Linked DNA regions of Homo sapiens: region 2 is linked to region 1. Evidence: fine-mapped expression QTL. A gene starts in region 1. The other region holds a variant in brackets. All regions are shown on one strand. Distances are between the middles of the regions. Region 1 holds the start of HDAC9 (histone deacetylase 9). Region 2 has its middle 87 kb from the start of MIR1302-6.

Evidence for each region. PIP is the estimated chance that this variant, and not a neighbour inherited with it, causes the effect.
Region 2: its variant is the best candidate, but not a certain one, in a credible set for the expression of HDAC9 in whole blood (TOPMed, PIP 0.66).

Annotation. Positions count from the first base shown.
Region 1 is chr7:18,493,413-18,498,802 of GRCh38, reverse strand. It overlaps HDAC9 (histone deacetylase 9), which reads right to left and starts at 3,054. Exons shown (of 26, transcript NM_178425.4): 1 at 2,780-3,054; 2 at 2,479-2,541. The coding sequence starts at 2,500. RefSeq lists an enhancer at 3,276-3,325.
Region 2 is chr7:18,212,016-18,217,405 of GRCh38, reverse strand. It overlaps a transcript of HDAC9 not described here. Among named protein-coding and RNA genes, the nearest start is that of MIR1302-6, 87 kb to the right of the region's middle. The variant T/C (reference allele first, on the strand shown) is at 2,262.

The sequences.
Region 1 (5,390 bases):
AACCTCACAAGAATGCTAAGAGGCAAGCAGGAGGACATCATTATTCTTCAGTTTGAAGATGAGTAAAAAAATCAGTACACAATCGGCTAGCAGTGGAGCTCATGCTAGAATACAGAGTGTCTGACTCCTAGAACAGTGCTCTCTCCACTCCTTTGCACTGCTGCCAGGCATCCTTTCTCTCTTTCAAATCCAAAGACTCTGCTTCTAAGCCTATGAATCACGTCCAGACCACTGGTCCAAAAGGGAGCTGAACAAGATTTGTAGCTAAATTAAGACAAACATACCCCTAATTTAGCAGTTAGCTCAAAGGACAAACCCTACTGATAGTGGTTCACCAGCATCACCATCTGTTCCCTAGCCCTACAGCAGTGAATCTCAGTTTGCTGAAGGTTAAGGTGGGGAGATTTTAAAAACCTCAATCCCCAGGCTGTTCCCCATACCAATTAAACCAGGCATTCTGGGAGTGGAATCTAGGTATCATATTTTGTAAAGTGCTTCTGGTGAGTCCAACTTTGAGAGCCAGTGCCTCACAGGAAGTATACAATAAAGACTAGGTGAATTAAATTTAAGAACATATATGAAATATATGGCATGGCAGGAAGGGTGTAATTGTTTTTATGCTTCACATTTTAAAAATAAATAGAACTTAGTGATTATGTATTTATACCAGACAGGTTTTGGGAGTTGATGTTAACCTACATCACTTTTCATTTAATAGCTAGCTGCTGCTTAAATGTTGCTTCTTGTAGAACTGGCCAAAGCATGGACAGCCTGAAGCACTTCCCTGTCTGAAAATCTTGTTGCTTTGTACACAAACCATTAAATGCTAGGAAAATGACAATCTCTACTGAAATGGGTGTAAAGCTGTATGTGATTATCAAAGATGTGGAGAAAAAAGCAAAGCTTGCAAACACCTGTAGCCAGCCTTAGCTTCAGCAGACACTTGCTACTTGGAAGGCATGTATGTTTCTACCATATGAAAAAAAATATCAAACTTGTAACACAGAAGTGAGGACTAAAAGGATAAAGCATAGTGCTGAAAAGATTTCTAAAATAGTTATTTTCAAAGGGTTCATCCATATTTTAAAAAATAAAATGCTAAGTTAAATGACCAGTCCCATTAGAGACATACCTGTTAAACCCTCCCGGAGCCCTTGTCAGCTTTGCAGCTATAAGAATAAACTGTACTGAAATTCTGGTAGGTTTGCTTTTGTTAAGCAGGCACTATTCATTAACATAATTCCTGTCACTTAAGTGTATAAATACCAAATTATGCAAAATTGATATTTTATTCTGATTCCATGAAAAGATTGGGTCAACAGAAGGATCTTAAAATTAACATAACTAACCAAGGTTTAAAGAAAACTAGCTTTAAACATAGATCCCCATATGGGAAGGTGTATTAACACCAAAACAGACATCATGCCAACCTGTGGAATATTTCTTTCACACCTAGCTCTACAAAGTAAACACTGCTTTATGTGGCATTCTTATCATGGAAATCTAGGCGGTGATCTATAATTACGATTAAGCCCACATGGGAAGTGGGATCTAAGTGAGAACTTTAAGCCAATTTTAGGTTGAAACATTCAGAAGAGGACAGAAACAAAGAGTTCCCAAAGCTTTAGGAAATAGCCATAGGAAATAAATATGAAAGGCAATAATTACACGTTAAGTGATACTGCCTGGAGAGTATGTTCATTTAGTAAGTATAAATTGACAAGGCTGACAAGCTCAATCTCCCACCAGCTCATCTCCTTGAGAAACTAGAAATTAGAATCTGTTCCTATTATCCTTTAAAACGCTGCACCTGCTTTTAACACATTTACATGTGTGTTATGCCATCACATCTGCCTGACAATGCTAGACTTCCCACATGTTTTTGAAGAAAATTAAAATAAGCATCTGCTAATAACAATTTTATTTCATCCTAAACAGTTTCATTTGGGGCTGATGAGAAAAAGCCACATAATGGAAAAAAGAAAACTACCTTTATAACTCTGTGGCAAACACATTTTAGAAGGTAGGTCTATAAATAGATGTGCTTCTGTAGGCACAGAGTAAATATAAAATCGTCAGGCTAGCGGGGCTGCAGTTTAAACTGAAGCCCCAATATGAACTTACCTGATTTTTAAAGTCCTATTAGAATAGGCTTACAATCAGTACACAGCTCCTTTTTCTAGTTGCATAGTAAAGGCAAAACACCCCCAACTACATTTTACTTATCTCAGTCTCATCTTTCATCAGAAGCAATAGTTTGCAATTTCATTCAGAAGCTGCTGTCCCTAAGCAGACTGAATATGCACAGAAACAGTAATGGAAGGGATCTAAGTTAAACCCTACAGACGCACCAAGAAAATAGCAACATCAACACGAAAAAGCAGCAATTTCCTTAAGAGAGGTGCTTTTCTTAGCTGCATTTCCCAAGCCAGCCCCCTTTCAAACCTAAAACGTCTCAGTTATGAAAGAGGATCTTACCTGAGCTGATCATACTGTGCATTCTTTGCTGAGCCAAGAGCTGCTCTCGTCCAGCCACCCCATCTGAGGAAAAACAGGAGTCACTCTCGTAAATTGTCTGCAGCATATTCCAGTCACTCTTACTTCAGCTACATGAAACATTCATCACTGCTCAGTGCACCGGCCCCAGGAGCTACCCTCGCTGGTTCTCCCTCCTCCCTGAGGAGAAGCAGCAGAGGATCAACTTCGACAATGATTTCCTTTCTGCTCAAATGGGCATCCACTTTTAAAAAGACCTGGACACTTTTCCCATGTTACCAACCTGTGTGCAAAGCAGAAAGGACAGAGTGGATGCTATAGCTCTCTGGAGTTTAGGTTATCCCGGAAACTACAAGCAGGTGGGAAATAGGAACGTGCTTCGGGGTTATTTCTTTGTCAGAATACGTAGAAAATTATTAAGTCTACCCACGAGAAAAAGAAACCAATTAAACCTGGCTTAGAGTTCTTCAGGCTGCTAGGGTTTTGTTGCAAAAACCCTCAGTCCTGCAAGTGGCTCCAGCCGGTGCCCTTCTCCTATCTGTGTCTGTGCCTCTCTTCCCCCTTTCTCAGTCTCTCTCAGCTCAAGTTGGCTAAAGCGAGTGATAATCCATTTGCATATGAATCAACAACAGCATGGCCCACAGGCACAGAAATAGAACAATGGTCGGCCTGAGCCAAAAATAGGTCAAGCATGGCCGAGTGATTGGAGCCTGCATTAATGCATTTAAAAATACCCCAGCAAACCCAGCTGTCCAGCCTCTATCTTTCCAACCATAATTCTCTATCGCAGGGCCTTAAAACCAATTAACTCTTTCCTCTCTCGAAGCTTGCTTTACACACTGTGTTTCCATACTGGCGATTCGCTTCCAAAGAAAGGAAGGCAAGAAAAAAAATTAAGAATCATAATTCTAAGAGGGCAAATGCACATACATTTCATTTCATTTTATTTTTGTAGTATGTGTTTTTGGAAGAGAGAGGAGAGAAGTACAGAGCTCTGTATTGGTTCTAAAATAATACTGGAAGCTTTTGCTCATAATGTGGTTTCTGCCTCACCCACGCACAGCAATCCTGGTGTTCTATTTTTGTTGCCTGTTTCTCAGGCTACACTGCAGTTGGCTGTAGCACTAGAAGCTTTTCTGCCTTCTAGTTTCAGGACTAACAGGAGATTTAGCAGAGGTACTTTTGGAAAACAAGCACACCCCAGAATAAAATTTTTATGAAGGACAGGCTTGATTTTTTACTTGCTATTTATGCAAGACAATTGTCCATTTCACAAATCCTATTGTATCTTAGTACCACCTATGAATTTTATCGCATCCATCCAGTTAGTACTATATCTATAAACAAAACAAAACACAAAACACAAAACCGTGGCTTATATGTGAAAATTTCCCCTCAGCCTCTCAGGCTAAATTCAATTTACTTGCAAAAGGAAAAGAAAGTAGTCTGATTTCTTATGGATACAGAATTTCTGAGCATATGCACCTGTTGATGGATAAATCATATATATGGTTAGTACCCAACTATGACTGTTCTGCATTCAGCTATACATTGGTTGCCCGAAATATGGACCTCCTAACTTTTCTGTAGAAATAGCATTTATGATAGTCAATAGATTACCAGACACATTGTGGCGTTCAGCTATACAGTACAGTAGATAGTATCAGAGTTTTATAGTCTCTGGTGCTACATTTATATCCTTTCTATATAAGAGATAAATTTTACATTCCAAAGAGGGATCCTAGCATCTTGTCACTTCCAAGAGCAAACCCAAAAGTGATAATCTACTAGTCATGGAAGCTCTTTTCTCTTTTCTAAACTAAATCAGCGAGGAAAATGTAATTCTAAGGCATCAGAAGCAACAGGGGAAAGAGAGGAAAAAGCAGATTATTTCAAAATTCCCAGAACAATCCGATGGAAGAGGGATCTTGGTCAACTCCAGAGTATGAAGTCAGAGGGGGCAAACAAGGGGACACAGAGTTTTGATGAAAGGGAAGAAATAAGCACGTTAAATCATTCATCAAATAGGCCACTGCTGAATTCCTCTTCTTTCACAGATTAATTTCTACTGAATACTCTACTTCTTGAAAAATTGTATTTGGATATGTAAGTTACAATTTTTAAAAAATATATATTCCAAACTGCGTTTGACTTAAGCTACACAACAAAATCTTATGTTCCTGTCAGTGGAAAAAACAAAAAGCAATTATCTGATTCCATCTGATATTACAAATAAACTTTTGATTACAAAATTTATGTGTAAAATTCAAAGGATAGAAACAGTGTGGACCTAATAATTTTCCTTAAGGATGATGTACTGAAGTAGTAACTATCATCACATTTTAGACCTGGGAGGAAATTTAGAGATAGTCAATTGTAGTTTTCAAACTCTGTCTCATGACATAAGGTACCTGCGAGTTGCCTAAGTTTCCTCAAAAAAGGTTCTCCGTGGAACCAGGGGAGCTCCACTTTTACCTGTTTCCATTTGGAGATTTGAGATTTCTTTTGAAGAACTTTTTTTTTTTTTATTCTACAAAACATTTATGTAAAGAACATTTTTTAAATTGCGGTATATTTGACAAATCAAGATTCTTTATATTTCAGGTGTACAATTTGATGATTTGATACACCTATACCTTGTGAAATAATTACCATAATCAAGCTACAAATCTATCATCTCAGCTAGTTACCATTTTTTTTGTGGTGAGATCAGAACAAGAACTTCTTATATTAAGAAAAACAATCATTGAAATTCACTCATGAGGAAACGAAGGAGGCTTGATTACAAAAGGACTCACTATTGGAGTCAGGCTTTAAAGACAGTAGCTTAAGGAAATACAGGTAATTAATAACTAACCATATAGGTCTAGCATTTATATTATCCAGTCTCACCA
Region 2 (5,390 bases), 280 kb after region 1:
ATAAAAACAGTTGTTAATTTCAAATACTAAAATATTACATTCCAGTAAATAAAGCCAAAAGTATTTGGAGAAGGAAAAAAGAGGAAAACAAAAGGCAAATCTTAATATTCAAGAAAAAGATAAAATAGTAAAGTAACAAAAGGGGGATGAAAAACACAGAAAAGAATAAAAGAATTATAAAGAATATTATGTATAGTTGGTTGTTAAAGAATGAATTTTAATAGTTCAATAAAATTAAAAGATCATCCCAGCTGAGTAGAATATATAAACCCTAAAGAGATGAACAGTTCTAGAAGAAATTTAAGTAAACAACTATTGTCAAATAAACCTGACTGATTTTTTGCGTGGATTCTTTTAAACATTGAAGGAATGGAAAAATATGGAATTTTTTAAAAATCTGTTTTAGAATGTTACATTCTGCTAGTTGATATGGTAAGTCAATACGGTTTTAAAAAAAAGTCCCTTCCTCAAGATACTTTACTGTCCTCCTTTGTAAAACTGTCATAATAACTATGCAAATGACAATATTATAGGTGGCAGTGTACAACTTGTATAATCATAAGTGATGGGCCTAGTAACCCTGACACTAAAACCTGAAAACCAGCTGACAAAACAGAAAACTATCATTCAGTATCACAAATATAGAGGCAAAAATGCTAGATGAAATACATTCCAAACCCAACAGCATATTAAATAATAATAAAACATGTCCAATTGTGTTTACATCAGAAATCCCAGAATGGTTTAATACTAGGTAATCTACTAATGAAGTTACGACATCAATAGGTCAAAATATGTTAAAACAGAACCTATCCCTGCATGCTAAATAACATGCAGTCATCTCAATACATGTGCATAGGCCAGGGTAGTTCTATAATATAATAAAGATTCCCTATCTTTAACTTACAATGAGCACCTTATTAAACATTTAGCAGAGTTGTTTCCAACAAAACCAGATGTACAGATGCCTATCACCAACATTAGGAAGAAACTGTAACATTCTTACCAATACGATAGAAAAAGAACTAAAATTTGAAAATATTGGGATGGCAGATTATGTATACTTATAATATTACTGATTATCTAATAAAAATAAGAGATTTCAGTGAAATCCATGAACTTTAATGAGATTTTGTTAAACTTTCAAATATGCCAATAAGAACAGTTGGAAAACTTTCTGGGAAAAGCTCCAACTAACCAACTAATCAATCAACCAATTAATCAATCTCTCTGTTCTATCTCTCAAACTCTCTCTGTCTCTCTCTCTCTCTCTCTCACACACACACACACACACACACAGACACGCAGGCACACACATACACACATACATTTCATGCTGCATACACCTAAAAATAAAATTGTGGTATTTACTGAAAAAAGAAAGGAAGGGTGCCTTCTGAAGAGGTGCGAGACGAGAGAAGCCATAGTGAAGAAATGACACAACTCTAGAAAGCCATCATGCATATGAATATGATATACCAGATGAATGACTTCTTTCTTTATGAGAAATGTTTCAGAAATTGTCTAAATATGTATTTATATGATTGACAAAAACAGCTTGGAATATGCCAATGGTGCCCAAGGGTATATAACAAACATTTTCAGCCCAATGCTTATCTTTTCTTCAGGAAGACCAAGGCAAGAAAGACCCCCATGAGATGAAGTAAATACGTTTTCCTTTCATCTACTATTTCCTTTGGAGTCACTAACCTTCAAAAGCCCCACTATTCGGGGACTACATTTTATGTCACAAGAGAGCAGTGCCCCCTTTTGGTGCCAAATGCCAAAAGTTCTTTGAGGGCAAGGACACAGTCACTTCTGCAGATCCTCAACACTGCCACATAAAATCATTTAAGCAAAGCAAACTATTAAGCTACCAATCCTTCACATGGTAAAAGAGGAACAATTTACCCACATTAGCATAAACATGGATACATTTGGCAAAGATCACTTTTCATGTATCATGTTCTTTTCTTGAACACCAACTATAGGACCTTACATGCTAACAGAAAACTGATGTATATTAATTGAGTGCATAGGCCTTGTTGGCTCTTTCTAACACAAATCTCTTGACATAAAGAAAGGACCGGGACTTTCTCTAGAACTAATATGTCTATAATGTCTCTCATCTAATGATATCAAAATGCTTTTTTCGACTGGCCCACGGAGGTATCAGATTTCATATTCAAATCTAGATCTTGCGTACAACTCTGTGAAATATGAAAAATAGAGTTCAGTAATTGTTTGGATATAAAATTGTC[T/C]AATAGAATAGGGTAGAATAGAATAATCCATTTATTAGAAAGGAATATTATCTGTTTCTCCCTTTCATTTCCAAGAAACAACAAATAACACCAACTCTTTGCTAACAAACAGCATAAGCCCATTATCATACCATAGTACTTAAGTATAAACTGTTCTATTATTTTATGGTATCTTTCAAGAAGTACCATTTTATAGCTGCAAATGAAAATAATACCAACAGTATGCTCTTCCAAAATAGTCAAAAGTAATAAGATCTTTTCCATGCCCCCATCAGTTTGCTTTGAGTGGACAGAACCATAACAAAGAGGTCTTTTTATAAACAATGCTTTGCTTTATTTCCTGCTACCTATGACAGAATTTGCAGGTATGCCCTGCTGCATTCACTAATGAATTTATCTCACTTTGTTAAATAAAAACATAAAGGTATTATTTTGCTTTTGTAAATGTTATACACATTATATATAAGCTTATATATAATGGCTATCATATATTATATATAAGTTTCCTATGCTGTTTCATATCACACAAGTGCTTACCAATTTCTTCAATTACTACCCATCAGTGTAATTCTTAACTATATACTGGAAAAGCATCAAAGTGAGATTTTTTCCCCAGCAGTATGAATTATTTTTAAAGCACATCAGTTATAATTCATCTAACAAGGTGGGATGAGAGAGATCAGACTCTTTCACATACAATCTGAGCTTAAAATAAATGCTAAGAAGCAATACTGTAAATTCCTTGAAGTATATGAAGATGGCCAGAGGCATGCATTTACCTCTGAAAAAGCAGCCCTAGTTAGGTCAAATGCCAATTTTCATAGCTTAATGGGTGGAATTAAAGATCCTGAGCCAGACACACCATTAATACAAGAGTAGCTTCAAATTCTGGCTGTAATACTTTCTGTATGATGTTGAATAATCATCATTCTAGTGATAATTCTAGAACAATTATACTCTATTAATATAAAAATGTTATATTAATAGTGACATCCTTATCTGCAAAACAGAATAAAAATATATACCTTATAATACTATGTTGTAGTGAGGCTTAAATGCAATAATGTATAAAGTGATTAGCATAGTTCCTGGTAAGAGTAAATAAACCTGTAGCTACTATTATAATGATGTTTATGTTCTAATATCACTTATCCTGGAAATGAAATACCCTCTCCTCTTAAACTGGGGAAGGAAAAAAACAACTGCTGGGTGATTACTAAACTTACAAAGCTGGAAGGACTGGAATTATGGAAAAATTATGACTCAAGAGATCCTTCAAAGGTACTTCACAGTCTGTTACATGATGCCTGGTAGACATGTCTCAAGAAATAAAGCACAGAATATTTCAATTCCTGTAATGGGAAACCAGGGCTTAAATACGCTTTTCCAAGAAGTGGTGCCACCAGTGAAAATGGAAGAATTGATAGTTTCACATCTCCTAAAAGTAGGCTGTATCTGAGTTTAGGTCTTACAGTGTGAATAGCTTACACATTTAGCTTTACTATTTTGTCTGAATAGGAGCTGAATAAAATTAGAATTCAGCCAATATCAGTGACTACGTTTGCAGTCCTCAGCTGATGAAAATCAGTCATGGCTACATAAGACTAACAGAGAAAATTTCTTCTCAAAGAATACGATCATAAAAGAAAAATCCCAAGAACTACCACATTAATAAGCATCTGTAAGCAAGCAATAATTCAGTAACTATTATCAGAGTTTATAGTAATTAGACATGGGTAGAAGAAAGTTAAAAATTAGCTAAACCATCTTTCTACACGTAAAGCAACATAATTTCAAATATGAAAAATCCTGGTCTCTTATATATACATGAGGTTGTAAGGAGAAAAATGGAGGGGGAGGTCATGAATACTGCTCATCATTCTCTAAATGCCAAATTGAAAAATTAATCACTGGCATACAATAACTTTTGAACAGTACTCTGTTCCATGAACAGATATTTCTGTAACCTGTCAAAAGTATTCTTTGTCTTGCCCTAGAGGGAAAATTTATTAAAATAAATTAACATTTTACTGGGTCTCTAATTGGAAGTGGCTGTTCTCAACAAACATGTTTATCAAACACTGTGACTGGCAAAATGTATTACTGTAGCTGTAGTTATCCAAATTACATGCTGTCTAAAGCAAAAAGGGCAAAAGCCATCTGGCTCATATAACTTGCGTTTTCTAGACAGCTTGCAGCTGGTTCTGATTAAGCAGCATCTCAGAACTCCCAGAAATCTATTTTTATCCCTGGAAGTGTATTTTTAGGACTCACACATCCAAGGCACAGGGCATTTACATTAATAAATGAACAACCACTTTGATTAGGAAAAGGTTTATGTGACACTTTGGTTTAGTCTCCAGCTGCACAGATGGACTACAAGTTGTATATGACAGTCTGAAACCTAATCTTTGGAACTTACCTGCTCCCTGGCCATTTTAGTATCTCAAGGGAGGAACACAGAAAAGATGCCTCCTCTGTCTTATGAAATAATCAAGGAAATACATCGTAACAAGAAACTTCACTGCAACATCTTACCTATCCTAGGAGGCTGGTACAATTATTATCCCATTTTACAGATGAGTAAACAAAGGTTTTGAAGGCTAAATAACATATTAAATGTAAACAGTCAGTGAATGATACAGCCAGGACTCACATCTGTATCTTTGATGACGCAACAAGAATTCACACCCGTATTTTCTGGCTACAGAGCCTGAGCTAATATTAACCACAAGATTATGCTGTCTCATCACAGACAGGGTTAATAGTGAATTTTAAAAATGTATTTTATTGTAAGAAAATGTAATAATATTATATGAGGTAAAGAAGTAATCATAACTTTGGATGGAAGAAGCATATTAGAACATTCTAGAACTGAATAACAATACAGATTTGTATTAATAAATCTTACAATAAAAAAAGATAAAGAAGATTTTTTCTTCTAATTTAAATCTCCATAGTTGTATTATTCATCATCCTGTTTATCATCATCCTAATCATCAAATTGGGATGAAGTCAGACATAGGTGCTGGACAGAAACATGCAGAAAACATTTAGATAGCTATGAAGACTTGGACATTCTAATTTTTATAAGCCTCTCCCCAAAGAAACACAGTCAGAGAATCACTG